Linked DNA regions of Homo sapiens: region 2 is linked to region 1. The links come from fine-mapping of genetic effects on gene expression. A gene starts in region 1. The other region holds a variant in brackets. All regions are shown on one strand. Distances are from middle to middle. Region 1 holds the start of WDR17 (WD repeat domain 17). Region 2 has its middle 57 kb from the start of WDR17.

What was found. PIP is the estimated chance that this variant, and not a neighbour inherited with it, causes the effect.
Region 2: its variant is the best candidate, but not a certain one, in a credible set for the expression of WDR17 in whole blood (TOPMed, PIP 0.84).

Annotation. Positions count from the first base shown.
Region 1 is chr4:176,057,485-176,073,534 of GRCh38, reverse strand. It overlaps WDR17 (WD repeat domain 17), which reads right to left and starts at 7,694. Exons shown (of 29, transcript NM_181265.4): 1 at 7,456-7,694. RefSeq lists a silencer at 7,439-7,818.
Region 2 is chr4:176,000,651-176,016,700 of GRCh38, reverse strand. It overlaps a transcript of GPM6A not described here and the pseudogene MARK2P4. Among named protein-coding and RNA genes, the nearest start is that of WDR17, 57 kb to the left of the region's middle. The variant T/A (reference allele first, on the strand shown) is at 11,746.

The DNA of each region.
Region 1 (16,050 bases):
AAGACTTGGAACCAATCCAAATGTCCAACAATGATAGACTGGATTAAGAAAATGTGGCACATATACACCATGAAATACTATGCAGCCATAAAAAATGATGAGTTCATGTCCTTTGTAGGGACATGGATGAAACTGGAAACGATCATTCTCAGCAAACTATCGCAAGGACAAAAAACCAAACACCGCATGTTCTCACTCATAGGTGGGAATTGAACAATGAGAACACATGGACATAGTAAGGGGAACATCACACTCTGGGGACTGTTGTAGGGTGGGAGAAGAGGGGAGGGAAAGCATTAGGAGATATACCTAATGCTAAATGACAAGTTAATGGGTGCAGCACACCAACATGGCACATGTATACATATGTAACAAACCTGCACATTGTGCACATGTACCCTAAAACTTAAAGTATAATAATAATAAAATAAAAAATAAAAAATAAAAAGATGGCACAGGAAGTCCTCATAGGTGATACTGAGCAGACATTTGAAGGAAAGCAAAATATAAGACATCTGGTGAAAAAATCTTGCTAAAAAGAGGGAGCACAAAAATAAAGACTCAGAGATGTGTTTCTGGGAATGTCTGAGAAATAGTAAGAAAAATCAATAAAAGTACCTAAAAATGTCTATTAAAAGGTCAGCGTTTTATACCAGGATGCAGAGATTCAAGATAGTTTTGTGAAACTCACTTTTATACTCTTCTGAATTGTGTAATTTTTCTGTAATGGAAATGTATTGCCTTTATTACTAAAAAATAAAACCCTAAAAACACATTGTTGAAATGTCAGTGTTTAAAGTGTAAATATACTATGTGCTCGGAGCTATGCAAAAAATATGTCTTCTCATATAATCCATAGGTGCTTGCTCTCTGGAAAACATCTGGAAAATGCAGAAAAATGAAAGGAATTTTAAAAAAATCATCCATTGGCCCACTAACTTGAGCTCTTCTTGTATCCATAATTCTAAATGAGCATTATTCTCATTGTGATAGATAGCAACATACATTATCAAGAATAAATAGGATTTCAAAAATCTCTTAATCAGTGTATCTCAAAGTGTGGCTCTCAAGTATTTCGCATCAGAATTAACTTAGATACTTGCTAAAAATGCAGACTTGTGAATCACATCCCAACTCCAACAAATGAGAACCTTGGAGTGGAGCTTTTCAATATCACTCTCAGACAATTTAAATGCACAGCAAGCCTTAAGAACTACTGGCCTAGTTCAATGTCTATAAAGATGAGTTGGAAGAAAAATTGTCTCTGGTATCTTCTACTGTCTGAGATTAATCTCTGAAATGTCTAGTTTACCTTTCACATGCTTGAGTTTACCTGAGCATTTCTGAGTTTACCTTTTACATGCTTGGCAGGCAGTGTTATCTAAGCATTCCCAATATATGTCAAATCATGATGTTCTTAAAAGCTTAGAAGACAAAATAGGTCACAAGTACAGTACTAGCCTACATTAAAATCCTGGATTAGGTAGCAAGTAGAGAAGAATGAGGTCATTATGGCAGTTCTACTTTGGACTCACGAAATGACCACTTATACCAGTATGAATTCCATCTTGGTCAACAAAACACAGGAGTTATATCTAAGACCAAACACTGAACATCAAAAGAGCAAGACACCGATTCAAAGATACAGAAAGATGAATGGAGTTACCTTTATTATCTATTTACATATATTTTTATACTTTCCTCCATTTTAGCCATGAAAATGAAAATTATATGGATTTGAATCCTGGAACTAGACTTACCCAGATGCTTAGAGGATTACAGAACGTTTTGTGCTGCAACATGGAAATAATTTTTGATTTGATCAAAGAAGTAATCCACATCTACTTCAACAAGCTCATTCATATACTTTCATTGTGACCATTCTGAGAGAGGTATCCAAAGAATAATAGAAAAGGGAAAGGCCGGGTGTGGTGGCTCACGCCTGTAATTCCAACACTTTGAGAGGCCAAGGTGGGCCGAGGTCAGGAGTTTGAGACCAGCCTGACCAACATGGTGAAACCCCGTCTCTACTAAAAATAAAAAAGTTAGCTGGGCATAATGGCCTGCGCCTGTAATCCCAGCTACTCAGGAGGCTGAGGCAGGAGAATTGCTTGAATCCGGGAGCTGGAGGTTGCAGTGAGCCTAGATCGTGTCACTGCACTCCAGCCTGGGCGACAGAGTGAGACTCTGTCTCAAAAAAAAAAGAGAAAAGAAAAAAGAAAAGGGAGAAATCACATATTTTCAATTATAAACTAAGAATTTTTGAAGTAAATATTCCATTGCGAGAACACTATGGAAGGAAATAAGTAAATATTTGTCATAAAAAGATACAAGATTATTTCTTCAACAGGGTGTGGCAAAAAGTATACCCCTATTTTTATAAATAGAATCACTGCTCATTAAAAAAAAAAAGACTTGAGGAACTCTGCCATAAATTGCTATGTAATCCCCAGGACCCTCGCTCCCCTTCTAATTAACCTGGTTTGTGAGTTGGGTTTTGTATGTGAGTTTTTGAAGCAGGATGAGCCTTCATGCTTATCTGTCTATCAAACTTAGGATTCCCCATTGGGCAGAAAGTCACTTAATGCTGGCATATTCATGTTCTGGGAAAAGGTGTTAAAAATTATTTTGGCAAGTCAGTTTGGGAAAACCAGCAAAGAAAATCAAATGGATGCTTAGAAGCTTGAATATTAAAAAACAAAAACAAAAACAAAAACAGGGCCAGTCACAGAGGCTCATGCATCCCAGGACTTTGGCAGGCCAAGTTGGGTGGATCGCTTGAGCCCAGGAGTTCCAGATCAGCCTGGGCAACATAGTGAGCTGTCTTCTCTACGAAAAGTAAAAAAAAAAAAAATTAGCCAAGAGTGGTGGTGCGTGCCTGTAGTCCCAGCTGCTCAGAAGGCTGCTGTGGGGGGATTGATTGAGCCTGGGAGTTCAAGGCTGCAGTGAGCCATGATCACACCACTGCACTCCAGCAGGAGACCCTGTCTCAGAAGAAAAAAAGAAAAGAAAAAAGAAGTGGAAAAAAAGGGAAAAAAGGATCTACATAAACTAACTAAACTCGAAACTTTCTTCAATATATGCATTCAATATATTGACAGAGGCCTGAAATAAGTCTGATTTTAATTTGCTAAGTAAAGGGCTGTATTACCTAAGGTAGGGCCCAGGCACAGATCTGATAGGTTGGTAATCTACATATTAGTCTGCCTAAGTCAAATATTACGCTCTGAGCCAACATAAAATTCCCCCTAAACATGAGCTAATGAATTAATTTTGAAGGTGAGACATTATGCCCAAAAAGCTACTATTGATATATAAATGTTAACGAAACGTATCCACTATTATATTTTCAGGAATAAATTCATTTATTTAGTAGTTCATGGTACTCCCAAGTAAAGCTTCAGAAGTAGAACATAAGCCAGCTTTTCCCTTATTAATTTTGAGAACATAATTTTTATGTGTTTAGTGTCCTCATTAACAGAATAACGGTGTTAGAGTAACTGGTCTTAAGGATCCTTCTATCATAAATTCCAAAATGACCCCTTCAAACCTGTTTACCTTAAAAATAAAATGTTGCATAACTCTTTTCATTAAAAGTCATCCATAATGTTTTATCTTAAAGAATCAAACTTAATTAAATGTTAGCTATTTCTTATTAACCAACTATTCATTTTTTTGAGACTCCATGTGGAGCTGTTTGTATTGTAATGAAGGGTTTTTTTAATAGCATGTTAAACACGAGTGCTTTGTGTAATAAAAATTATTTTCTACTTTCCGATTTGAAAGTAAGTTTTCTGTGTGCGTGATATGAAATTGAACTTACTACACATCATTGTAAATGAGTCTGCCTGGGACACTGGTACATGCTTACAACTAAAAAAAATGGGAAGAATCTGGAAGAAGAAAACAATAAACCTAAGCATAAGAAAAATTGTTTAAGGACCTCAATCTTGAGTTCTCCATCTCAGAACATTTGAATGTACAAAACAAGTATTGACTGTTATAACATCTTCACTGACACATGGAAATTTATTTCTTACACTTTTGCTACAATTTATCCGAACATGACAATTATCAATCATCCTTATCATAGCAAATAACATTGTTAAATTACCTCCTGTATTATCTTAATTATAGATTTATATTACTGTCTATTTCTACAGTACATTTTTTAAATTAGAATGTAGAATTACAGAATTTTATAAGACAGCTTACTGAACAATACTTTGTAAGTACATTTAACATAATAAAAAGTAAGACTTTTATCAATATATATATATAAATTATTTTCCTCAAGTAGCTGATAATGTGACATCTGGAAGGCAGGTGCCAGCTGTGGCTCCAATATCAAGTTCTTTTTTTTTCTTACAAAATCTAGCCTATTTGAAATGTTTGACTAGTCACTGAAATTATACCTGTCTAGTCACTGAAATCAGATGAAAACAACCTGAACTCTGCCTTCTAATGTGACAGCCCATGCTTTAAGCATGGAAACTTTTCAAATCTTTCTAATTAATCGTGATGGGAATTTTTCTTTTACTATACAAAGCTGATCATTTTATATTATTTCTACCAATTTTTATTACCAAAGTTGCAAGTCCTTCGTGAACATTTTAAGTAAACTCAAATAAGAAAAATGTTTTTCTCTAGGTTTTGTTTCCTTATAGAGTAGATTCTTTGGGAGAATTTCTAAAATTCTCTTCAGGTATCCGTATCTAATTTCTTGCTCACAAATTTCAAGGAATAGTTTTATCAACAATGAAAGAATAATCACGATACTATTTTAACAGGATAAAGCACAGTCTTGGGTATCAAAAAGTACCAACCAAATCTTAAGTTTCATATGTTTCTGATACAAAAGAAAAGGAGCATGAATTAATAAAAAATCCCTTCCAATATCCTCCTTTTTTTCTTTTTCTTTTCTTTAATTTTTTTGACGTTGTCTTGCTCTGTCGCCCAGGCTGGCATGCAGTGGCGCAATCTTGGCTCACTGCAACCTCCGGGCCTCCTGGGTTCAAGAGATTCTCATGCCTCAGCCTCCCAAGTAGCTGGGATTACAGACGTGCACCACCACGCCCAGCTAATTTTTGTATTATTAGTACACATGGGGTTTCACCATGTTGGCCAGACTGGTCTCAAACTCCTCACCTCAGGTGATCCGCCTGCCTCAGCCTCCCAAAGTGCCGGGATTACAGGTATGAGCCACCGCACGCAGCCTATCCTCATATGATTTCTATAAATTAATATAATTTCGATGAAATCTCTGTTCCTGAAGACGTACTGGAAGATACATGACTTCACTTTAATATTTCCATCTGTTCAATGGAAGAGGTATACAAAATGTAAAATGAGATAATTCAGCAGTGGTCAAAAGTAGCAATGATGCTTCCATATACATAATTATCATGAATAGCTGGGTAAACTCTTAAGTATTCAGTATTACAATTCAGTAATCTGATAAAGCGTTACCTTTCTTGCATATGTTAGATTTCAAAGAAATTCTGGAATATAGGATGAAAATGTGAATCCTTCAAAACTGTCAGAATTACATTTTAGTCGTCATTAAAGTATTTAGGCAACAAAATCAGGTACTCTGGAGAATTTACACATTTCATTAATAGTGACAACCTAATCATTCATGTTGGACTTCTAGTATCCATCAGGGTAAAACCATAAAACAAACAAACAGAAACCTGTTCTTAAACTTCTCCAAGTAATTAAAAAACTGCCACTGGCCCTGTCCCTCCTTTCCCAGACTAAAGGATACAAGATAGAGTCTGTAGAAAACAGCAACAACAAAAGCAATCTAGCCCTAGTCTCCCCTCTACTGGGAGCATTGTTTTTCTGGCCTAAATTAATTTATGGCTTTCTAATCTATGGAATTATTTATGTGACTAATGGGTAACTTAAAAATATTTAGAACACCACTATTTATCATTAGAAATAAGAAGAATAAAGAATGTTAAAACTTTCAAGTAAGCATATTTAACGTCTTCTTCAGATGTCCACAGTTTTTTAAGCAGTTCTATTAATATCAACACAAGAGAAAGTCAGAACAATGTAAACAATAACATTCAACTAGTTATTTTTACATAATTACGTTTGCAGAACTCAAGAGCTTTACTTTCCGTATATGCCCTTTGAAATAAGTCATTGCTTTAAAACTTCCCAGGAACTCTAAAGCTACCATTTGTAACATTAATCTCCAAACAATCCAGTAAAGGATGTTTCCCAAAATATTAACGAATTGACAACTTTTCAAAAGCACTTAATAACTATATTTAATTTTAGATGATAGGAGGGGAAAGGTTCTCAGACCACCTATCTCAGACGTCTGCCTTCAAAACAGTTAGATATAACTATATCCATTTTCTTGAACACTTAGGCCAGTGAGGCAGAATCTCAAAAGGATGTAAGAGTGCTTTCTCCACAGAGTTTGTTTCACCACCCGCCCAGCATCAGCTCCTGGCAAGCAGGGTAATGATAAGGCATAAATCTACAAATAAATTAATGCTTAAACTCTTGTGGAGTTCAAATTTATAAATTCTCATAAATTCATTGTCATTTATTTTCTAATTTTTACAACGCAGAAATGTTATTAGAGTGCTAAGAACGGCAACTATAATCTCACATTGTTGGGCTTTGGCCGTTTCGTATCCTTTTACAACGAACTTGTGTTTTTTTGATAGTTTTCTCTAAAGGGTATTTATGAAAGATTCAGAAATGTAGTATCTCTCTTCAAACCCTTGTTAAATATATATAGTATATATGTATATATTAATATGCAAAATAATTTATTTTTGATGCATGGTCGGACTTTTCATTACTTTTCATTCGAATCAATTGCTTTTAATTAATATATTTAAAAAGTCTCCTTAAATTGTTTGTTCCTTTCAATCTTTGCAAGCAAAACAAGTCTGATTTTGGAGAGGGGAGGACAGCAAAGATTCTATTTTACGATCTACTTAATAAATAGTATACCTGCCTTATATCCAATACCGTCTTTTTTCTGGAACGCATTTCCTTTTTACTCAAACCTTTCTTAGTACAACCCTACTAATAAGTCCATCTTCAAAGGGGTAAATGATCTATACAGAAGTGTCTGGCCGGCGGAGGGATGAGAACAGCAACCTAGGCTCTAGACATATACTTAATAGCCATAAAAATAAAACAATGTCCCTCGAAATGTCCACAGTTTACACTGCAATGGTAGTTTAGATACATAAATATTCGCTGCTTGCTGTGCCTTGTAAGAATCAGGTGTGTGGCTCTAAAACTCAGTTGATTATCTCATCAGGCACCATGGTGTGCAAAGCCCTGCAGGACGTACATTACCCTGGTCCGCGATCACAGGGAGGTCAGAGCCCCTCTCGCATGACGCCGCGACAGTTCCAGCATCACCCACATCAATCCTGAGCTTGCCTTGGTATCTCTGCGGCCCCACCGGCTTCTTACCTGGAGGAGGAGGCGGCTGCAGCGGCGGACAGCGGAAGGTGCTGAAGCCGGCGGGCGCAGCTGCGAGGCGAGCACCACCAACGCGCGGACCCTCCCCGCCCTCCCCGCCTGCTCGCTCAGGGCGCCCGGGGGCGGGGCGGCCGGGCCCGCGGGCTCCGAGGGGCGGGAAGCGTGCTCCGCAAGCCCCAGCGCGGAGCCACGATGGAAGGCGCCGCGAGCCCGATCTCCAGGGTCTGCCCCAGAGGCCCACGTGACAGCTACACAGGTCGCTGATTGGAGCGCCCGAGAGGGGGAGGCGGAAGTGGCTCGTGACCCTTGGAGACTAGGCTGAGGGAGAAGTGGTTACCTGGCAACAGAGAAAGTGTGTTGAAGGCGCAGCTCCTCCGTACTGGAGCGAGGCTTTGGGCAGAGGGTTTGCACTGAGGCTGAAAGTGGAGGAAAACGGTGAACCATCAGCGTTCTCACCACCTAACACATTTTATAGCGAGTCTGCACTTTCTAGGAAAATGAGTCAAATATACAGTAAGTCAGTCATCCTGTCTCTTTCTTGAGGGACCTGGAGGAGGGACTTGAACCAGTGCCTGGAATGTGAGTGCAGAATGCTGTCTCGCCTGCACTTCATTATTGTCTGATTGGGCCCAAGAAGGTCTGTGGGAGAGCTCAATGGATAAGATTATTTGTTTATATTAATCGAGTTGTATGTGGTTAATGTATCTGCCTTCACAAAACTGACATTTTCCCTGTGGGATCTGGTTGAATGGAAGTGCTGGATGTTGTCATTCCTACTGGATTCTTCACATCTCTGAAATATCTTCACTACCTGTGGCCTTTATCCAACACACTAGAGAGAATAAGCCTCGACGTACTCGAAACAAAGTGTATTTAATGACATCTATCGAGAATTAATTATACTCCACTCTAAATAGTTAATAAATGAATGGTCGACCTCAACCAGAGAAAGTCCCTGGGCCTAATTCTTACCTTCCTATGCAGTAGATTTTAATGCTCCTTTTTTCCAAAATATTCTCTGCAGAGACGAGTACCTACCACAGCACTCAATATTCTATATTGTAAATTAAAATTAACTTAAATGTTGGATTTCCATATAAAGAATAAACTTGTTAAAGCTAAAATCAGTTCTTACAACTCCGTCCCCTATATTCTAACAAAGTATCTGATGAATAGCAGGTCTTCAATTAATTCTTGATGGATAGATGGATAAAGAAAGAAAGAAATTAGCACATAATCTACCAGAGAAAGTATAAGGGCAATAACTAAATATAACTCAATGTGTTAAGTACTAAAATAGGGTTACATAAAAGTGCTATGAGATGATTTCAGATGAGGGAGGCAGAACTTTTTCTTCCAAGGTATTCAGAGAAGCTTTCAATATGATTAGTATTTGAGCAGGGACTTATAAATAGGTAGAATTTCACCTGATAAAAAGGGGAAAGTGTATACTATGCAGCAGGAGCAGCATTGCCAAAAGCATAAAGTGGGAAAAAATAAACGATTGATGTAAATAAATTTGATGTTTTTGCCTTCTCCGGAGTTGGGGATGTGAATCCAAAGATAAGAAGGAAGATGGAAATTGGCAAAAGACTGTACTAGAAAAATAAGAAAACTTGATTGGGAAAGATGCAGAATTCTATATATGGGTTAGGCTTTAACCTCTAAACCAAAGGAAGAGATTGAAGTTTATAAAATCAGTGCTTTTTCATCAAGAAAGACACCTTGGAAACATTGGAGATACATGGGATGCAGGAAGATGAAGAACATGGTCTGTTAGGAGAAAAATTCAGTAGTTCATGGGAAAAGATGCTGATGACCTGAGTTAAGACAATGAAAATAAGAATAGCGAAGAGGGAAAATCACAAGAAACATTTCTGTGAAAACAGACTATAGTTTTCATTTATGACTGATATTTGCTAGGTATAGTGCTGAATAGTCAATGGTGTACATGAAGAGAAAATGCTGAAGATACAACGTCTAGCTTAGTCCATCGGTTGGACGGAAAAAATCTTTTATGTTTATTTTGCTCATAATGGCTCCAGCTCTCCAGTTAAGAAACAAAAAACCGGCCGGGCGCGGTGTTTCACTCCCGTAATCCCAGCACTTTGGAAGGCCGAGGTGGGCGGATCACCTGAAGTCAGGAGTTTGACGGCAGCGTGGTGGTGAAACCCCGTTCCTACTAAAATACAAGATGAGCTGGGCGTGGTGGCGGGCACCTGTACTTCCAGGTCCTCGGCAGGCTGAGGCAGGAGAATGGCGTGAACCCAGAAGGCGGAGATTGCGCCACTGCACTTTAGCCTGGGTGACAAGAGTGAGACTCCGTCTCAAAAAAAAAAAAGAAAAAAAAGAAAAAGGAAAAAGAAAGAAACATAAAATTGAATGAGACAACTGAAATTATCTAGTTGTGCACTCATAATTTAAAGATGAAGGTGTTTAAATCTCCAGTCATATTAGCAGCAGATTTTGATAGAGTGATCCCGGTCTCCCAGTTCAGGACTCTTATTCCTTTACCAGAATTTAGTTCATTCCTTTTGAACAGATTTAAATAATCACAACTATAGTTAGATTAGATCTAGAGGAACAATATACCTAATTTATAAAACAAAGATCTCTTTACTCTGATTTTTTATTCTTTTATTCAACCAGTATTTAATGTCATATACTCACCTCACAAAGAAAAAATTGTCAGTCACTTAGGCTGACTGACATTTTCAGGGCAATCATTAGTTCTTAGCACTGAGTACCCGGAGTTCTTCATGATTAAATTTAAAAGCAGAGCGATTAGGGAAGCCAAATGACTCCAGTCAAATTCATCTTCAAGGATAGATAGACATGTTCTATGAGTACAATGGCTTTGAAAAGGAAGTTCAATGCAATTTAATGTGGCAAATGCCCTTTTAATATGTATTCTGGATGAGAAATCAACAAGAAAAAAACTTCTTAAACTAAAATTTTAGAAAAATTTAGCCAAAAAGACTTTAGATTCACCTAATTGAAAAGCCCTCTCACACTTTTTTTTAATGTAAAAATGGTAAGAGAGCAGAAACAAGTATAACAGAAAAAAAAACTTAAACTAATGTGCAGTAAATAGTGAACTAAATACTTAAAAATGTACTTTATGTAAAAACACTTAAAAATTGAAATAGTTTTAAATAGATATATAATCTATTGCCACAATATTGATGATTAAGGTAGATATATTTAAATATATCAAAATATTATTATTTCTATTAAGAAATATATTAGAGGTTATTACTCTTTGGTCTTCTTGAGGTATAAAAATGGCTTAAATTAACCAATAATTTTTGCAGAAAATTGAGATTTTTTCTCTAGATCAATATTGATAGAATTCTTTTATTTTTTTAATAATTGCAGAAAATTTGATATTTTTTCTCTAGATCAATATTGATAGAATTCTTTATTTATTATTATTATTATTATTTTGAGACAGAGTGTCACTCTGTTGCCCAGGCTAGAGTGTAGTGGCATGTTCTTGGCTCATCACAACCTCTGCCTCCAGGGTTCAAGTGATTCTCCTGTCTTAGCCTCCTGAGTAGCTAGGATTACAGGCATGTGCCACCACGTCCAGCTAATTTTTTGTATTTTTAGTAGAGACAGGGTTTCACTATGCTGGCCAGGCTGGTCTCGAAATCCTGACCTCAAGCAATCTGCCCGCCTCAGCCTCTGAAAGTGTTGGGATTACAGGCATGAGCCACTGTGCCCAGAGGATCAATATTGAGAGAATTCTTAAAATTGTTTTTAAATTGTAAAATATTTAAACAGGAAAGTACATACAATAATGCAATAAATATCTATAGTTAATAAATTTTGTTTTTGTCATATTTGCGTTGTCTTTGAAAAAAAAAATTGGCTGGATGTGGTGGCTCACACCTGTAATCCCAGCAATTTGGGAGGCCAAGGTGGGCTGATCACGAGGTCAAGAGATTGAGACCATCCTGGCCAACATGGTGAAACCCCGTCTCTACTAAAAATACAAAAAAATTAGCTGGGCGTGGTGGTGAGCTCCTGTAGTCCCAGCTACTCGGGAAGCTGATGCAGGAGAATCATTTGAACCCGGGAGGTGGAGGTTGCAGGGAGCCGAGATTGTGCCACTGCACTCCACTCTGGGCGACAGAGCAAAACTCTGTCTCAAAAAAAAAAAAAAAAAAAATTATAGGTAGTGAAGTTCTCCTTTTTTCTCTTGTCATTTGATTACTCTCTCATTTTAACCAGATGTAGCTAATCTAACAGATAAATATACTTTCTAAATTTGCTTTATTTTCTGTCATTTATTTTAAAATTTTATAATATTGGTACATATAAGTATATATATTTATATGATATATATCTTATATTAGGAATATAAAATATAGCATCATCATTATTTACCTATTGATGAACATATAAGTGTGTGAACTTTTCTCTATTGCAAAAAGTAGTGAAACTCTTTTCCTGCTCCATATCATCAACATCAGAGTTTTATACTTTTTTCAATCTAATGAATGTATAGTAATATCTCTACATGATTTAAATTTGTGCTTTCTGAAATTGTTGGAATGACACATCTTTTTAAGTTTATAAATTGTTCACTACCTTTTTTTTCTATATTTAACTTTTCCATATTGATTTTTTAGGTTTTAAAATATTCAGGGTGTTTATGTGTTAGATATACCCATTGCAAATATCAGTCCAGATCTTCAGTTGTAAAAATTCTCCATCATTATTTGAATATTTATTCTATTTTTCACTTCTAAAATTTTAATTGAACCTATATGAGAGTTGTTAATTCTACCCATAAATGTATTTATCACTTGTCTTTTCATAGTTTTAATCTCTTTGTCCCTTTGTGCTGAATTCTGTATGACTCTCAGTACCATATTTCAATTTATGAATTTTTTTTCTTCAAATAGTTTCAAAGTGATGATCTTGGCTCCTGCCTAGCCTCATATGAGACATTTAGGTTCCATTTTTCAGCTTAGGCTAATTCTCATCTACTCTTACCTATTTCAGATTTGGGATCCAAAGATTTATGGTTTTAGCTTTACACTCATTATATTTAAGCCACAAATGTGCTTATTGAATTTGTGACTGAGACTCAACAACTTTAATATTCAAATTTTCAAAAACAAAATTCCCCAACCTCCCTGAATGTTAATTTATTCCCGGGAAAATGTTTTTATATCTTTACATAAATTTTGCATATTAATTGAGAGGGATCCTCTTTGAAATTCCCTTAGAATCCACTGACTCTGTAAAAAATCCCTACTCTGTTAGTTTCTGTGACACTGTTCTCTTTGTACAACTAAAAATGCCTTGCCTTTGACAGTATATCCATTTTCACAAACTGAGTTTCAGACTAATGCACCCTTTTGATTTTCTCTTTCACTTACCTTTTTTTTAGTTCAATTGATTTTATGTATAGTAATAAAAAGCATGGTGTTTTCACTCAGTCATCTGCTGAAGCCAGACTGCACTGGTTTGAGAGAAAACTGTTAACATTTTTTAGGAATTTTGCTATTCATTATTAAACACATCTATTCTTAAAATTAAATTATATAAATGTATAATTAAATTAATTAAATTAAAAATCGAAGTAATAAATACTCAAAATGTATCACTTCTTAATTATTTACTAGTGTTTTATCTATGCTTTTGAGGTTATTTATGTTTATTGTAACTGTATGGTACAAATACTGTATAATAATGTACATTTCTTCCTAACTTGTTCAGTGATGTCACATTGATAGCTTGAAATTGGCCATAGTGGATGTATTTACTATCATGGGTAATCAATGACTATCTAGGCCAGTGGCATTAGGGTAAGAAGAAGTTACCAAGACAGTTGTAGATAAAAAGGCAGATTTATTGGAGAAGGTATGAAAATACTTCGCAAACGTGCAATGGGCAGACCAGCAATAGAGGAGCTGACTTCAAGGAGTCAAAATTTGCTGGGGATTTTATACAATGGTGCTTGTGCTGTGTACTGAGAAGGGCTTTGTGCAGTATTTGTAATATCAAGGTTGCAGTGAGCTAACTTGCATTTTTCCAGCAGCTGAGGGTCTAGTGATAGCTGGGCACAGAAAGGTTGTGAGTTGTTTGTGCAGGAGGGCTATGAGTCCTGAATCATGAAGAAAGGTAGGCTTATAACTTATCTGCTTTCTCTTTCCTTTCCCTTGGTCCCACCAGCCTGACTCCTTTTCCCTTATTAGGACTCCATATTTACACCTTGAAATTCAGCAAATGTGAGAAATCAGGGTATGATTCGTCGTGTTGTTAACTGTCTCGACCTACCCTGCTTCATAAAGTAGCTACTAGCAAAACATGGCTATTTAAATTTAAAGTAATTAAAATGAAATAACATTAAAAATTCAGCTCTTCAATGATAGTACTTAATAGTTCAAGTACTCAATAGTCTCATGTAGCTAAGTGGTTACTGTATCAAACAGAGCAGGTAAAGAACATTTTCATTATACCAGAAAGTTTTATTGGTAAATGCTGGTTTACTTCAGGAGTCAGAAAACTTTTTCTGTTAGGAGCCAGATACTCAATATTTTGGACTTTAGAGCTATATGGTCTCTGTCACAACTACTCAAATTTGTTATGACAGTGTGAAAGCTGTCATAGCCAATACATAAATGAATGGATGTGGCTGTGTTCCAAAAAAACTTTATTTACAAAAACAGGAGGCAAGCTGTATTCAACTTAAGGCTATAATAGTTCGGCAGTCTCTGGTATAAACTTAAGAAAATGATGGAGAAACTATTAATAATGCAATTTAACTTTAAAGTTTGTTGTGTCTATTACTGTTACATTAGAAATCGCACAAAAACTGAGGAATTATTCTTTTAATATTCAAAAACTGTTATTCAATCCTGCTAATAAGTTGTTTAGGCCAATGGTGAATGAGTGAAGTTTCTATATATGCCTTCATTGTTTCTTTGTTGTCTTACTCATTAACATAAAAAAATCAACATTAATGTCAATTGCAACCATAATTTCAATACAAATACAAGAGTTTGGCAAATATTAATGAAAGTATTCTGTGAAAATCACTTTGCTATATGGAATATAAAATAAAGAAGATAATGTATTATATTATCATACATAAATTGTGTGGGACATATTTTATATCATTAAAATTTATAATAAATTTGTTTACATACATATACGCATACATTGTTTTTTTTAGAGAGCAGGTTGTTAAACGGTTACTACCACATCATAAGAAAGCATCTGAATTTATCTAAAAGTGTGACACAGGAATGCTTATGAATCTTGGTGTTTCAAAGCCATCTGTCTATGTATTCATCTACTCTCTCTCTCTGCCCCCACCCCAGTCTCTCTGTCATGACCTTCGGAATGTACTACTCATTTCCAGCTGTGGGGATCATAAAGCATAGATGGTCTCAGCTGCTGTGATTTGAATCCACCATCATCACATTTATGCCAAAACCACACTTCACTGTATACAAATTTTATCTCAATAGTTATTTTTTGACCTTCACAAAGAACTAATTTTCCCCAGTTAGTATTCAAATATCCCAATAGTATACAATTAGTGCATCAGACTGAAAAAAAATTATGAAACTACTTTTTTTAAAAACATGAAAAACGCTATTTGAACATATATTAGTATTAAATATTGGGAGTTAATAGAAATAATGGCAAAATTAATTACTCTTGTTTATTTGGACAGCCACCTGAGCTTATATCATGAATTTTATCAGACTGATATTAAATAATAATTTATTTTTAGCATGTATATCCCATATGGAAATATTTTTTGGTATAAGGAACATACAACATTTATTTGAGATAGACATTCTGACTCCCTAAATCTAAAACTCTCCATTATGGGCATTCGATTCATATATGTGTGTGTATGTATATACTACTGTCTGTGCATTTAAATAAAATTTCTCAAAGCCTTATAAATAGAATGGAAGAAGTACATACAATAGACTGAAACCATGCAAAAGACTAAGCCAAACTAAAAATAAAGCAAAGTTCAGATATCTGGTTCTAGAAAATATGACTTAGGCCATTTTGCTATGAAACAAGGCAATATGTTGCTATGAACGGGAGTCCCACATGAAGCAATTTGCTGAAGATATTTCAGAAGACTTTGTGCCCCAAGACACTGGTTTTTATTTCTTTGTTTTAAGGATGCTTGCCAGCACTAATTCTTCATCCAAACTTTTAATCTTTTAGTGACACCAGGTTGAAGGGTAGTTTTCACCTGTTTTAAAAAGTGTAAGATCATAAACAATGATAGGTAAAAACCTAGCCTTCATAAAATCCTGTTCAAAGAGTGAGCAAATTTTCATAGCTTTTTAGAAGCAGTTGTAAATCTCAGAGGATTTCCTTTGTGTTATTGTATTCCCAATTCATAGCCATCTTGCCAAAAAGAAAAAAAAAAAAAAAGAAAAACCCCTAAATATATATTTTATGAAATATTGAAGCAGTAAGTGTTGCATGGTGTTTTTCTGGATGGCAAGCAATGGATTTTATAACCTAGAATTTTTTCAAGGAGCAGAACAGGTTAAATTAATAAAATTATGTTATATTTTCTTACATGTGACC
Region 2 (16,050 bases), 57 kb after region 1:
AAATCCAGCAGTCTCACTCCCTGTTATTTACGTAAATAAGTTGAAAACTTATATGCACACAAAAACCTGCATACGGATGATTATAGCAGCTTTATTCATAATTGTCTAAACTTGGATGCAACCAAGATGTCCTTCAGTAGGTGAATGGATAAACTATGGTGCATTTAAACAATTAAATAGTATTTAGGACTGAAAAGAAATGAGCTATCTAGGCATGAAAAGACATGGAGGAACCATAAATACATATTACTAAGTGTAAGGAGCCAATACTGTATGATTTTAACTATAAGGCTACACAGTGTATGATTAAAACTATATAACATTCTGGAAAAGGCAAAACTATGGAGTTGGTAAAAGGATCTGTGGTTGCCAAGAGTTAGTGGGGAGGGAGGAAGGAATAAGTGGAGCACAGAAGATTTTTAGAGCAATGAAACTATTCTGCATACTATGATGGTGGGTACAAGTCATTTATGCACTTGTCCAAACCCATAGACCATGTAACACCAAGAGTGAACCACAGTGTAAGCCATGGACTTTGGAAGATAATGATGTGTCAATGTAGGTTCATTGATTGTAACTAATGAACTGTTTTTATGGGGAATGTTGATAGTGGAGGAGCCTATGCATGTGTTGGGTAGGGGGATATGGAAACTCTCCATATCTTCCATTCGGTTTTGCTGAGAACCTAAACTACTATTTTAAATAGTCTATAAAGTGCAAGAAAGAAAGAGACAGAGAGAGAGGAGAAAGAGAAGGAAAGAAAGAAGTAAAAGAAAGAAAGAAAGAAAGAAGAAAAAAGAAAAAAGAAAAAGAGAAACTTGCTTTCTCAACTGACAGTTGCAACCTCTACATTTGAAAATACTGACATGAACAAAATGAATCATCTATCTCATGGAAGGGAGGAATTTTCTCCAAAGAAAGGCAAAGCTTTAAATAAGAAATGAGAGTATGATGGAAGCTATCTTCCCCTCAGCTTTAAAAATCCTAATAATGTATACCTAAGTATATCTGATTGTGTCCTATGCAATGGAACATTTTTGTATAGTATCATGATGTCAGCTAAGTTGTGACGTCATTTTGAGACCAACCATTCAGAGTTTTTAAAAAAGAAATTATAAATTTTAGGCTGGGCACAGTGGCTCATGCTTGTAATCCCAACACTGGGAGGCCAAGGTGGGCAGATCACCTGAGGTTAGGAGTTTGAGACCAGCCTGACCAACATGGTGAAACCCCGTCTCTACCAAGAATACAAAATTAGCCGGGCATGTTGGGGCATGCCTGTAATCCCAGGCTACTCAGGAAGCTGAGAGAGGAGAATTGCTTGAACCCAGGAAGCAGAGGTTGCAGTGAGCTGAGATCACACTATTGCCCTCCAGCCTGGGCAACAAGAGCAAAACTCCGTCTCAAAAAAAAAAAAAAGAAAGAAAGAAAGAAAGAAAGAAAGAAATTATATATTTTAAATGTAGATACTATGAGCTCTTTAAAAGCCAAAGTTTATTGTAAGTTCCAAACTAGGAATGAAAAAGTCACTGAAACACTCTGCAGGTTTTAAATTCTAACGAGGTAAATATTGATCAATATAACTCAGATTAAAAGCTTTTTAGGAACACCTCAACCCCCCTCTTAAGAGAAATGTGTTCCAAAACCAAAATGTAAGAAAACCACTCTGGATTATCCTTACCAGTGATAGTTCATTTCTTGCTATAACCTGCATAAGGAGCTATTTTTATGAAATTCTAAGAACCTACAACTTCTGGGTCTAAACTTTGGTGCTTCCAGCTCAGGAAGCTGGTTTTCCATGACCTGAGAGACTTTGACCAAAGTTAACTTTTTATCTCTTTGGCTTTTTTTCTCTTTTGCTTGTTTTAAATTTTTCTTCTATACTGTTTTTTTCTGTTCCTCATTTTTTATTATTTTCTTACTTTCTTTTTTCTCACTGCCCTTTTTCATTTTTATTTTTCTCATTTTTATTATTCAGTCTTTTTCTCATTTTTCTTTTCTTAATTTCTCTCATTTTTTTGTTTAGTTATTGTTAATTTCTGGTACTTTTTATTTTTGTTTGGTGTTGTGTTTTGATTCCTCTCAATGACCAGTTCATTGGGTAGACTCTGGGCCTGAGTTTCTGTTGATGCGATTTGGACCAAGCTTCTCACCAGCTTTTCCCAATTGTAAGCTGACTTTGTGACAACTTGCCTATAAGCCCAACATGCTGCAGTGCCTCTCAGCCATCTCTATTCAGGAAGAGACCCATAATGGCAACGACTGGCTCCTTAGTCGACTGGCTCCATCAGTGGGGGTAACTTCACCAAGGTGAAATTGGTGTGGCACATTTTCACTGGGAAAGAGGTGGCTGCAAAGACCATCAGTAAGACTCAGCAGAACTCCCCCAGCCTCCTGTGACTGTTCCAGAAAAACCAAATCAAGAAGGCCTTGAATCAACCCACCATAGTGAAATTATCTGAAGTGATTGACATTAAGAAAATCCTCTACAGTATTGTGGAGTATGTTGGTGGAGGAGGGGGTGTTCCATTACCTGGTGGCTGATGGCAGCATGAAAGAGAAAAAAGCACAAGGCGAATTTTGCCATGAAGTGCCTATTGTGCAGTGTTACCACCAGAGGTGTATGGTCCTTAGAGACCTGTGGGCAGAACATCTGCACAGCTGACATTGTAGGCTAGCTTCACAACAAATTCACCTTTGGCAACAAGCTAGCTGCCCTCTGTGGCAGCCCTCTTTATATTGCCCCACAGCTCTTCCAGGGCCCAAAGTACAACAGCTGCTAGTGAATGAGTAAAGACTGGCAGTTATCCTCTATCGGCTGCTCAGTGTGCCCCTGCTGCCTTGTGATAGACAGAACTTCAAGGAGTTGCCAGAGTAGATATTGAGAAGAATATCTGGTATTTCTTGCTATATGCCCATGGAGTGTGAAAACCTGCTCAAGAAATTTCTTGTCCTCAACTCTCGCAGGAGAGGCACTTTAGAGGAAATCATGAAGCATCCGTGGATGAACATGGACCACGAGGAGGAACTGAAATCTAAACTCTTACATTGACCACTTCCTGCTTTTAAGAATCCCTGACAGACTGAGATAATGCCCATGGCTTATACGTGCGAAGAGATTCAGAGCTTGTTAATGGGTCAGAATTATGCCAAAGCAATGACCATCCATCTGCTCCTGGGCTACGAGAGATCTGAGATGGAGCACTACCCCATTATCCTCAAGCCTCGGCTTCAGCTCATCCCACCAACAGCTGTACTCCTTCCTCACTTGCAAGGTATAGCATGAGATCTCTGCCACCTCAAAGCGGCAGAGTTTCAATGAGCCTGCCATTCCCACCTTTAATTCTCACTCTAAGAATAGCAAAGACATGGAAGCAGCCTAGATGCTCATCAGTGGTGAATAGGTTAAATAAAATGTGCTACATATACACTAGAATACTATGCAGCCGCAAAAAATGAAATCATGTCCTTTACAGCAACATGGATACAGCTGGAGGCCATTATACTAGGCAAATTAATGCAGGAACAGAAGACCAAGTATCACATGTTGTCACTTGTAAGTGAGAGCTAAGCATTGGGTACACATGGACATAAAGATGGGTATAGTAGACAGGTACTAGACGGGAAAGGGCTGAAAAAAAATATATATATTATATATTTATATGTATAATGTTTATATATATAGTAGACATATATTAGAGGCAAAAGGGCTGAAAGCCATCTATTGGGTACTGTGCTCACTACCTGGACAACAGGATCATTCATAGCCCAGACCTCAGCATCACACAATATACCGGTGTAACACGCCTGCACATGTACTCCTGAATCTAAAATAAAAGTTGAATTTATTTAAAAAGTCCCCTTATGACCCCTTCTGTGGGGCACTGAACCACTTGTGATCTGCTGCTACCCAATCCATGAATCACTGAATATTCACATGAACTCATTAAATTTTTTCAAAAATGTAGTCAGAGTGCCACAAGAATTCAGTGGTCCGGGCAGAACCAGGAGTCAGAGTGGAAGGCCAGTGGCTCTGTGAAAGTGCCTGCTGGTCACCTAATCTGCCTAGAGGTGAAGACCACCTCCTTACAGCATAGCCCTCCAGTATGGCCCTGTGGCCTCCCTCTCTACCCACAATGCTGGCAGCATTGGTGGAGCCCAAGTTGAAACTGATTTCCTCCAGGGTCTCTCCTCCAGATGAAAATCCCTTCACTCTGGGCAGTTCGGAAAGGTGCACAACCAGCAAAATATGCTTGAGGATGAGACCCCCAGCCTCTTCTGATAACAGCCAGACCCTGCAGTGGGGCACTGGGAGGTTCCTCACCATTGATCTGCAGATATGTATGTTTCCAGTTGGCCAGAAACATAACAGCATAAAGCTGAAAGCAGTGCATATCAGACATAAAAAGATGGGCAGCAGAGGCAGGAGAGGCAGTGATAAAATCAAGAAAGAATGTCAGGAGTTCAAGCTGTGCTCCCTGGTTTTACCTGGAGAATGAAGACCATGAGCTCCGTGTAGCCCACCGAGATGCCAGAGATCAGCCAGGTGCCTGGTCAAGAGAGCTTTGTGCAGTGAAGAATGGAGGTGTCCAAACTCTTTCTGTGGGGTTCAAATTAAGATGATATTCAGCACCTTTGAGGCCTTCAAAAGCATTATCTCCAGAATAACTGGTAAGCCTGGGGAACTGCCAGTATTCATCAGAGAGACAAGAGGAGAGACCTCTGGCCCTAGTCATAGGCCTGGCACTCTGCCCCACCTGGTGAAACTTTAGAGACTGGACTGCTTCGAGAACATGGTTCTGTAAATATAAAACACACACACACCCACACACACACACACACACACACACACACAATTTAAAACAACATATGCTAATTATTGCATTTAAATGTTAAGGAAAACCACTCTGCTTTATTGCTATAGCTGTCACAAGACACTTACCTACAGCTTTGCAACGGGGAGGCTCAAAACCCTTCAAAATTCTCTTGTGACTCAACTGCAAACCACAAAAGAAAATCACTTTCCTCAAGGGAAACCAAAGCCCAGTGAGGCCATCCTAGGAATAGAACAAAAATTAATGAATTGTAAAGGAGACTGCATTTGGAAGCTGTTGTGTTGGTGTTTCTGGCTGGGAAAATAAGGCCTGAGGGTACTATCTGTACAATATATATTTTGTGAAACAACCACTTCAGTCTTTGTAAAACTGAAACAAATGAGCAAAAACGAATCCAAACCAAAACAAAAAGCAAACACAAAAAAGATCTGAGTCTTGTAGATGGAACCTCCACTCCCTGGAAAATCAGCCTGATCTCCCCATCTTTTTTATCATTGGTTACCCTGCTCAAGGATCCATGGTTTCCTCTTGGTCCTTACTCGTATATAAATTATGAAAATTTATGCTTCATATTTATGGTATACATCGACTGTTTTCATTTATTCCCTTCAGCAATTTTCATAGTTGCAGCTAACATTTTTATAACTGTTTAAAATTTTCAGCCTTTCTAATGCATTATCTTATTTAAATTGGACTTTGACATTTTTTTCTTTCTTTGCAATCCATATAATCACTGTGGTGTACTGTAGTATCCTTATTAATAATTCTTCCAGCACCTGTCTTCAAAGACTTGCCTCAATAGCAGGAACTGTCACTTCTGCTGAACTTTACAAACCTAATCTTTAGTCTTTCCCTGGATCTCTCTGCACTCCAAATTTCTCAGCCTCTGAAATATTAAGGTCTAATACAGCAATAGCTGAACAACAACTTCTGTCTATCCCCATCTTTCAAGCTTTATTTACGCCAAATCTGCTCTTAAACTTCCTTTATCTTTTCAGTACTGTGTCCCCTTCTTCTCTCACAGTCCATAGCTACTGTCCTGGGGTCTTCTTTCTTCCTGTTCTAATTTAGACCCAAGATGAATTAACTCATTTTGTAGTTTTTGCCATCAGCCTTACCTCCTTCTTCTTCCTACCGCTCTACCATTACACTCACAAATGCTCTCAGTTTTCTTTAAATTCAGCTTTCTGTTTTATCCTCTCCTATAGTCAAGTTATAGATTGGTGTCTCTATAAATTTAGATTCAGTCTCTGCTTGGACTTCAATGTTACTTGATGTTTCTTTATTATACCGTGGTCACCTCCCTCTCCTCTTCACTACAGCAGCTGTAACAAACTTCATTAATTTTCTTAAGTGGAGCTGCAGCCCCAATTTGTTCTCTCTCAGCACATCTCCTTCCTAGTACATACCTACGGAATACTGAGGTTATCAGGCCTCCATGAGGTCCTGAGGTTATCAGCCCTCTGCTCCAAAGCTCCATACTGAAATAAAAATCTTTCTTCTTTTTTCTTTACACTCACTTTCTCTACTTCTTTTTCTATCTCAGAGGATTAGGCAATTTTGCCTGTTCTCTCTGGCTTATTCCTCCTCCTGTGTTCCAGATAGTATCTCTTCATTCTACTCTAAGAAGTAGATCTCTAAGATTGAAACCTATATATGCATTAACATATGAAACATACAGTTCTTTTTCTTTCATAAATAAACTTTCTCTGACACTTATTGCCCACTCTGCCTTCCTTCACTGTGAACTGTAAATAGGTTGTCCACACTCTTTTTCTACCACCCGTTTCCTTATTCTTTATCTCTCTGCTCTTCACTTTTCCATAATACTCTTGCTACTGTTTCACCAGTGACTTCATAACCACCAATCCGAAGGGAACTTGCCAGTCCTCGTCTTCTTCGCTCTTTCTGTTTTATCTAGTTGACACTTCTTTCTTGTTGAAACGTTCTCTACAGGACTTTCTCTGGATTCTTTTCCTAGCCTAAGATTATTTTTTGCACTCCTCTGCATGAACTCCTTTTGTCCACAGTTATTAAATGTTTGTGTGTTCCCATTCTCCATTGTCAGTGTTCCTTTCCTCTTATTGAACATTCTCCCTCAGTGAATTAAAAATCATTGGCAATGTAGAAATGATATTTGGCTGGAACATAAAATGCTCATTCAATGACCCATAGTCACTCATGCCTAGATTAAATCCCAGTGCTTTTCAAGGTCATGTGACATGAGAAATCTTTGGTAAATAAAACTGGCTTAAAAACTGTTAGTAAAATACAATTAGAATGTCTTCAGAATTGTAGGTATTACATATAATTCACACATTTTTGCCTGGATCTATTGGACAGACAAATTTATACTGTCTCTTCTACATGTTTTTAAGGCCAAAAAATGGTTTCTTCTGTGATATATTTGATACTTGCTTAATTTGTCTGCGAGCTTATTTCTTTGGTTTTGAGTCTTTAGATTCTAGGGTTTAGACACTTGGTCACAGTGAGGGCTAGGGCACAGCACTTGAACCCCATCCTACCGGACCCAGCTGTGCCTCATGGCCATGCAGGGAGGAGTTGGATTCATTAGACATTGTCTGGAAAGGTCTTTCCTCCTTGAAAGAAGTTGGATTCACCAGGAATTGTCTTGAAAGGTCCTGGGCACTGTGTCTGGTATATAACAATTAAAATTGCTAACTTCTAAGGTTTTTCCCTGAAAATTAGGGTTACTAAGAGTTAACATTGTAATTAGTATATAAAATTAAAACTACCAGATGTGAGAAACATTTCTGTATGAAAAATGTATAAGGAAAGTTCAATGTGTTTTGGGTGGGGAAGGTTATAACAAAGGTGTGAGAATGTGGTTTTGTTAAAGAAAAGGTAAATTAATTTTTGTCTAGTTCAGAGGCCATATAAATGTTATTTAAAATTGAAGGGAAAAAATAATAGATAAAACTAAATGGATATAGAAAGTTGGGGAAAGAAAAAGAATGAAAAAATTTTTGTTATAAAAGTTTTATACAAATCTTATGTGGTCAAAACTGATTGAGATTAAATGGAACTATTTATAGTATTTTATTAAATTAGCTCTAACATTAACAATGCTGATGCAAAGATATATTTTAGTTTTCTCTTTTGAATATGATTTTCGTGTAGTATTGGCAAGAGATAGTATAATGGAAGATTTTTGTTCACCTTTTGAATAAACTGCAAAAAATAAGAAGTAGCAGGGAGAGTTTGACTCATGCTGTCTTTACTAGGTACTTTGATTGGAAAACTGAACCTCCTCTCTATCAAAGAGTGAAGTGTTTTGCTTTTGAAATCTTTTAATTATGAATTTGGCTAAATGAATAACTTATTTACAGTGACCTGTGATCCTATTTTGATCAAATATTTTAACACTTTCTTTTTTTAATATAAAGTGTTTTAAACCTTTGATATTTGACAAACTTCCAATACCAAATTTTAAATTCTAAAATTAAGTCTTTTTGACCTCAAACTGACTTTTGGATATTCCATAAAGAACCCCTGGAAGTCCAAGAGAGACATATGAGGCTTATGTGATGTGTAAAAATCATACAGAAATATTGTCAAATAAGAAATTGTGCTTAACTCTTCTTTGAGTTATAATTGTATAAATGTGTTATTAATGTGTTCCAAAATTGTATGAAATTCCTAAAATTCTGATATATCTTGGTACATGATATCAGTTATGATTATAATTATGTTAAATTGCAGTATGCCACAAAAATAACCAAATTTCCTTGTCAATTGCTTCTTTAACCATGGCTATTCTGTATCTTTTGTCATCCTCAGACAATGATTGTTTTACTTTGAGTCTTCTCAAAAAGTAGTTTACAACTGGCTACAGTACAAAATGTGCTTATTTTTAATTGGTTACAGTCCAAAATGTACTTATTTTTCAAAGAAATTCATGGAAAGGACATTGCCAAATATTCTCAGAAATACAGGTTTCTGACAACTTTGAAGGTCGTACCATTAGACTAGGTAAAAACTTCCAGAAGTCTAATGAAAAAACTAATGAGTTCATGAAGATTGCTAACCCAACATCAAGCAGAACAAACGTTAGTCATGTAAGACTTAACTGATAGAGAACTGAATGATTTTTCTATGATTTTTAAAATTTGAAATATAGCTGATGGTTTTTGTTTTGTTTTCTAGAGTCAAGAAAACTCTTTTTTTCTTTTGAACTATTTATAGCTTACAGTAATTGGTAAAGTATACTTTTGTGAGCAAAGTGGAAACATTTACCATTTTCTCTACCTGGTGTCACTAGAATTTAGAAACTATTTGTGAGTAGTCTTATTTTATGGCAACATAGTAATTTGCATAAATTAAATAAGAATCTGTTTTTTCCCAAAATAATACACAATTGTAGACACTATTTTACCAAGGCTGTGGATGGAATGACATATTTTCAGATATTACTACTTTGAGGAATTGAGGTTGACTTTCTAGAGCTGATTAAAAAAAAAAAAAAAACCCTTGTAAATACTGGCCTGGTAGCTTGTCTATATGGTTCTCTTACAAGGTTCCTGACTTTGCAGCAAGTAGAATGTCACTTTTTGGCAGCTTCAGGAACCTCAAGATATTTTGGAATCCTTGAGAAAAGGGGAATGTACCCAGTTCATACAGGTATTGGGTACAGTCTCATAGCAAATCCATGGTTTGGCTTCCCAGCCTTGGGAGGTTTTTAAAAATCGAATGTGAGATTCCTTATGTAAAAGTTCCAGCAAAGCCAACTTTAAAAAAGGTCATATAGCCAATCACTGTTCTTACTGCACTTTGTGCAAATAATTAGGCCAATTACAATAGGAGTAAAACTTATGTTGCAAATAAATTGGTCTTACTATGTCTTATCTTTGGTAGACCTAGGGGACTACAGAGAGAAACATATGTTTCAGAAGAAAACTATAGTATGCCTGTTATTGGATTTTAGCCTTGTCCATTGTTTTTAAGTTTTTATTATTTGCCTACAATTTGGACTGCATTCTGAATTATTTTCTGGCTACAAGTCTTTAAGGTTTTCAAATTTTTCTCTCATTTTTCTAAATTGAAATCACTAGAAATTAAAAACATGCTTTTTTTTTTAAAGCTCTGCAAACTAAAACTAGATAACATGATATAAACTTTCAGGGAAATCACTAGAGAAACTTACATACAAACAGTCTTCATGCCTATTGATGTCTGGACTCTGCCGAACGTTCATTTGAATACCTGATTCGAACTACAATCCAGAAAAATCTGTCAGATTGCCATCTAAAGATGCTTCAGAGATGCTAGAAAAATTAGTTTATAGACTACTCCAGACATTAATCTTTGTTTTTTTTATGTTTCTACAGAAATGCCTCTTACTAAAGATCTGTTTGTCTGCACTGTATATGGAGGTCAAGCCCATCTGCCATGCCGCCTCCTGGAATGGGACCCTGCTGTTTAACTCAACTGAACTTTTCTCAGGACTAAGAGGCTGATTCGAGAAGATATGAGATAACATATTTAAATTTGTTCTTTTCTGCTTATCCTAACTTGTTTTTCTCCTCCTTTGCCTGCCTCCTAAATAGCAACCTTTAACTCACATCTTTCCAAAGTTATCAACCTTGCCTTTAATAAGTGAAACTTTCTTAAAGAAAAACTTCCAAAGGGGAACAGAAGGAAACTAAAATATTTCCTCTCCAAATATATTTTCTTGACATATTTCAAGAAAACTATTCAGAAAAGCTGGAAATTCAAGAATAGCTGAAAAGCTGCCTTTTGTGGGGGGAGATTCGCATCAGTAGAGAAAACCTGCATTGATGCAGCCAGGCCCTCTCTGAGACCTTCCTTTGTCTGGATATAGGAAAGATTAACTGAGAGTCTGACACCTTTAAAAGTCTGAAAGAAACATTCACCTTGTGTTCTTGGTGTGGGCTGAGCCCTGCAAGGTTTCATCTGCATAGAAAGACCAGCTTTGCAAGCCCGGGCTCCTCTTCTCCCCCTCCCATAAGCTGTCTTGCCACCGTATCCTATTTTGCCATGATAAAAGCCCCAATTCTTTCTGTAACCTCAAGATGGAATATATAAGATTTGCTACCCCACTGGGGGTTGAGGTAATCACTCTATGGTTCTCTGTGCTCATTAATAAATTTGTATGCCATTTCTCCTATTTATCCATCTTTGCTCAGTTGATTTTCAGTGAACTTTCAGAGAGTAAAGGGGAAGTCTTCCCTTGGCTTCAACAAGGTTATGTCATGAAAAATTTCTAGCCAGGCACGGTGGCTTATGCCAGCACTTTGGGAGGCAGAGGTGGGTGGATCACCAGAGGTCAGGAGTTTGAGACCAGCCTTGCTAACATGGTGAAACCCCGTCTCTACTAAAAAATGCCTGTAATCCCAGCTACTCAGGAGGCTGAGGCAGGAGAATCGCTTGAACCTGGGAGGCAGAGGTTGCAGTCAGCCAAGATCATGCCATTGCACTCCAGCCAGGGCAACAAAAGCGAGACTCCATCTCAAAAAAAAAAAAAAGAAAAGAAAAGAAAAATTTATATTCATCTCAGAATTTTACAAGTTTAGCTAAAGCCTTAATTTTGAGTCCCATGGTTGGTAAGTATCTCCGTTTTTAAAAAGAAGTGTTAGTTATATTTCCACAGGACTTGCTAAAAGGTGGTCTAGGCAATGAAACTGAAGATGCGGGATGAATGGGAAGAATATTTTGGAAACAGAACCTTAGGACTTGATGGACAATTAGGTGACAGGAATGAGAAAGCAGAAATACCGGATAATTAGAGTAAAAAAATAATGTACTAAGTAAGATAATGAATTAATTTATATGTTTATTGAATCCCATATAAAATTATGTAACTTGTTAGATTTCAGGGGAGATAATGGCCTCTCTATACCTGAGATCTAGGATACTGACACCATTTACA[T/A]CATCACTGTAAGATAAATGAATTCAACATCAACATTTTGATCTATTCACTTATAATAAGGCAAAGGAAAGAAAACATCATGATTTTGATTATTAAAAGCCAGTATATGATGATTTGTATCTTTAGTGTATTCTAAATTTCATATATTTTACTGGGAATGTTAAAAATATTTATGAATTAGGCCAGGCATGGTGGCTCACGCCTGTAATCCCAGCACTTTGGGAGGCCGAGGTGGGTGGGTCATGAGGTCAGGAGATCGAGACCATCCTGGCTAACACAGTGAAACCCCATCTCTACTAAAAATACAAAAAAAAAAAAAATTAGCCGGGCGTGGTGGTGGGCACCTGTAGTCCCAGCTACTCGGGAGGCTGAGGCAGGAGAATGGCATGAACCCGGGAGGTGGAGCTTGCAGTGAGCCGAGATGGCGCCATTGCACTCTAGCCTGGGTGACTGAGCCAGACTCTGTCTCAAAAAAAAAAAAAAAAAATTATGAATTATATTTATTGTTGGAAGATATCACCATCTTTCTCAAGCATGTGGCAAACCAGTTGGATACTGAGAAACAATGTGGTTAACTGACTAAGATCATGAACTCTGGAGTATTTTGTCCTGGGTATGAATTTTGCATTCCCATTTATTATGAGAATTTGGGCAAGTGTTTAATCTCTTTGTGGATTAATTCCCTCATCTGTAAAGTGGGGATAACAGTATTTTCCTTTTTTAGTGAGAATTATATTAGCTAATATGAAGCCCTTAGTACAATGCCTGACACTTAGCACACTGTACTCAGTTTATGTTATAATTATTATTTTGTATTTCAGGATTATCATAGAATCCGATGGGAAAAAAACAAAAAACAGTTCTAATTTTTAGAATTCAAATATTATTTTGAATAAGTCTTCAGGAGATAGATTGTAAGTTGCTTGTGGTGATCCTAAAACTGAGCTTATGAATCAATCTCCAAAATCTATCACTTATCTTTTTTTTTTTTTTTGAGACACGGTCTCACTCTGTTGTCCAGGCTGAAGTGCAGTGGTGCAGTCTTGGCTCACTGCAGCCTTAACCTCCCAGGATAAAGTGATCCTTCCACCTCAGCCTCCCAAGTAGCTGGGACTACAGGCGTGCACCACCACACCAAGCTAATTTTTTGTTTATTTTTTTGGAGAGACGAGGTCTCACTATGTTGCCCAGGCTGATCTCAAACTCCTGAGCTTCAGGGATATACCTGCCTCAGGCTCTGTAAGTGCCAGAAGTACAAGTGTGAGCCAGCAACTTATATTTATTGAACAAATGTATTAGTGTTATGCTTTGCTACAGTCACAGTTCATGTTAGTCAATTTCTAGAAGGGTGATGCATTTCTGAATGATATGTTGAACACTTTTAATTTTTGTTGACTACTTCCTTTCCCCTCCCATAAGAATAACTGTATTCCCATGTAACTGAAGTGCATTTACACACCCCTGCCAGGAGTATACCTCTTCCATTACGTGAGAAAGAGCTGTGCAGATGTTTATGTGGCATTTGAATGATATGCTCTGCATTTATCCATGCATTCTGCTAAAAATATTGTTATTTATTTTTCATATCACCTTTTCCCCATTAGATAGCAATGTTCCTCAAGGTAAGTAATCATATCCATTTTATTTTATTCTTCCACTTGCTCACAGCATAGATATGTATACTTTTGGGTGTGCTTTGCATGAAAAAGCTGTGTACACCTTGGGGACTGACTTACTGAAATAACTTCTCCAGTATGACTCTTGAAAGAACTAGGTCAATAACCCATAGAGTTATATAATTTTTTTTTTTTTTTTAGCTTGAGGAGACCTTAGAGATCACTTTTTCCAGATCCTTCATTTTACAAATTAGGAAATGAGCCAGGATTACAACTCATCCTCTCAACTGTCAAGCCCTGTGCTCTTTCAGCCTCATCAACTGCCTCTTGGATTGAATTGTTTATTTTCCAGGTGATTTCTGCATATTATGATGTGTGTGTGTGTGTATGTCAGGGTGTGTGCATGTGTGTTTGAGTGTATGGTTTTTAGAACTTTATAACCTTGTCCAATTACAGAAACATATTTTATGTAGAAGAAAGAGGAGATGACAAAGGATAAATTAAAGGGAGAATTTTCTCTTCCTCTTGTCTTTATTAATGTTATTATCATTAAGAAACAAAATGGTACACAGAAGACAAGGGAACATAAAATTATCATATGAAACCTGTCTTTTGGAATAATCTATTTCCAGACTCCACTTAGAGATCATTATCTTGGCTACCGAGTCGGTTGTGGGGTGCTGAGACAACGTGTGTGTCTGTAATGTGCATTCAATGTATTTAGGAGAGAGACTTTGCACGTGTCTCTAATGAAAGTGAAAGGGGGCAGGGTGGGGGCCTCTGGGGAGGAGACCCACAGTGAAGGGGAGGAAAACGGGCTTCTCGCAGAGGAGGCAGGTGGAAAGAGGGAGGGGTCTGTGCGCCCGCAGAGTCGCCAGGCGCCCTGCGAGTTGTCTCCGCTGGGAGGGGCGAGGCTGTCACTTGCCAGGGCGCGAGGAGCCTCAGCGCGGCTTGGAGAACTTGGCCCCGCGCAGCGTCTGGTCACTCGCTCTCCTCTGGGGACTGCAGAGAAGCAGGACCTCGGGCCATGGGTGAGTGCGCGGGCGGGCGCGTACACCTCGCCCAAAGGCTCGGCCTCGGGAATGGGCATTATAGAAAGAAAATGAATGTTCCTCGGCCTCAGACTGCGTCCTTCCCAGCTCTGTTCCCCCCGCGCCTGGCGTCCCCCGCCCCCCGCCCTCTTGTCTCCGGACTTTTTTTTCTGGGAGAGAGGCGATGGCGATGGGGTGGCACCTGGAGGCGAGGGAGGGTGCCCGACTGTTTACAGTGGGTCGGGAGGGTGGGGGGCTGCGCTTGGGCGCTGATCCTCTGCGCCGGCCCCAGGACCCAAGCCTGGGGGTCCGGTCTACCGTGCTGGGGGCGGTATTTGGGAAATAAAGAAAGACTAAGAGACCCAGGATCCGAATAGCGAGGCGATTACAGGGAGATCTCTGTCCTCCCGAGTTCCCACGTTTTCATGTTCTCTTTGGGGAGCAAGTTGAAACGGGGCACGAGAAATGGAAACTTCCTAAAACTTCCACTTTGTACAGGTTTGAGCAGAGGAAGGTGCTGGTGCAGGGCCAGACTGGGGACAATTTCTAGTCCCTTTCCAAACGAAGTGCCCATTTGCACAAAAGGTTTGAGGTTGAGGCTGAAGGCTGATTCTTCCTAAATTCCACCTGGGTAAACAGCGTGATTAAAAGGGCGTCCACACTGGCTCGGGTCACTGGACGGTGGAGTTCGGCGCAGTTCAGCTTCGCTCAAGTTTCCAGGCAGGGTCCGCTTATTCGGTGCTTAGCGGAGGCAGCTTGGAATAGCTCCAGGAATGTGACTGCGTGTGGCGGAGGGGAGGAAGAACTGGGTGTGAAATAGCCGATTCACACCCAGCACTAGGACGCAGGGTCCCACGAGTCACCTCGAAGAGCGAGGGAGAAGCTGGGGAGGAGAAAGCACTCGCCATCCCTGGACTGGCGTATCCACAGGCGCAGGGGAGATGCTGCTCTTCCGCGGTTGCCGACTGCGTTCAGCCCGCAGCCCGAGTTACTCTTCCAACCCCAGCCCGCTCACTTCTTCCAGCCAAGTCCACTGGGCGCCCCTCCCCCTTGCTTCTCCCTTGTCCTTTGTTGTGAGGGATTTCTCCAAGAGTAAAGGAGGCCTTGGGGACTGACGTGCTCGGGTTGAAATTCCTGTATTCCCACAGGCTCAAGGGTTAGGGGATGCTTTGACTACTAATTTCTGGAGTTTATAGACAGTAGCCAACTTGGAAGAAAGGAAAAAAGAGAAAGCTGAGGACATTTTTGCCTATGAATGTTAGCTGTGATCAAGACTTTCATAGTCTCTTCTTGCTTGACCCCTGGAAGTGTCTTAGAAGGACCCATTTTTAGGGCCTTTGTATAAACAGTGTTGGAAATGGTCTTAAGAAGGACTGTCTTTAAATGTTTTCTGAAAAGGAAGGAGTATTTTCAGGTTAAAAAAGAAAGATAAAACATTTTCCCAAGTGTGGCAGAGAGTATTTCAGGCTCTTTTTTTTATTTGGTTGTTAAGTGTTGTGTTCCATTGGAAAGACAGGTCCGGAATATTTTAAATTTTTCTCCTAAACCCAACACTTGCTGTTCTACTTGACCACTTGAGCCTATAAACTCTTGTTTCTATGCTCACACAGGAGAAAAGCTGTCAGAAATGGAAAGTCAAAATAATTGACTTGATGTAG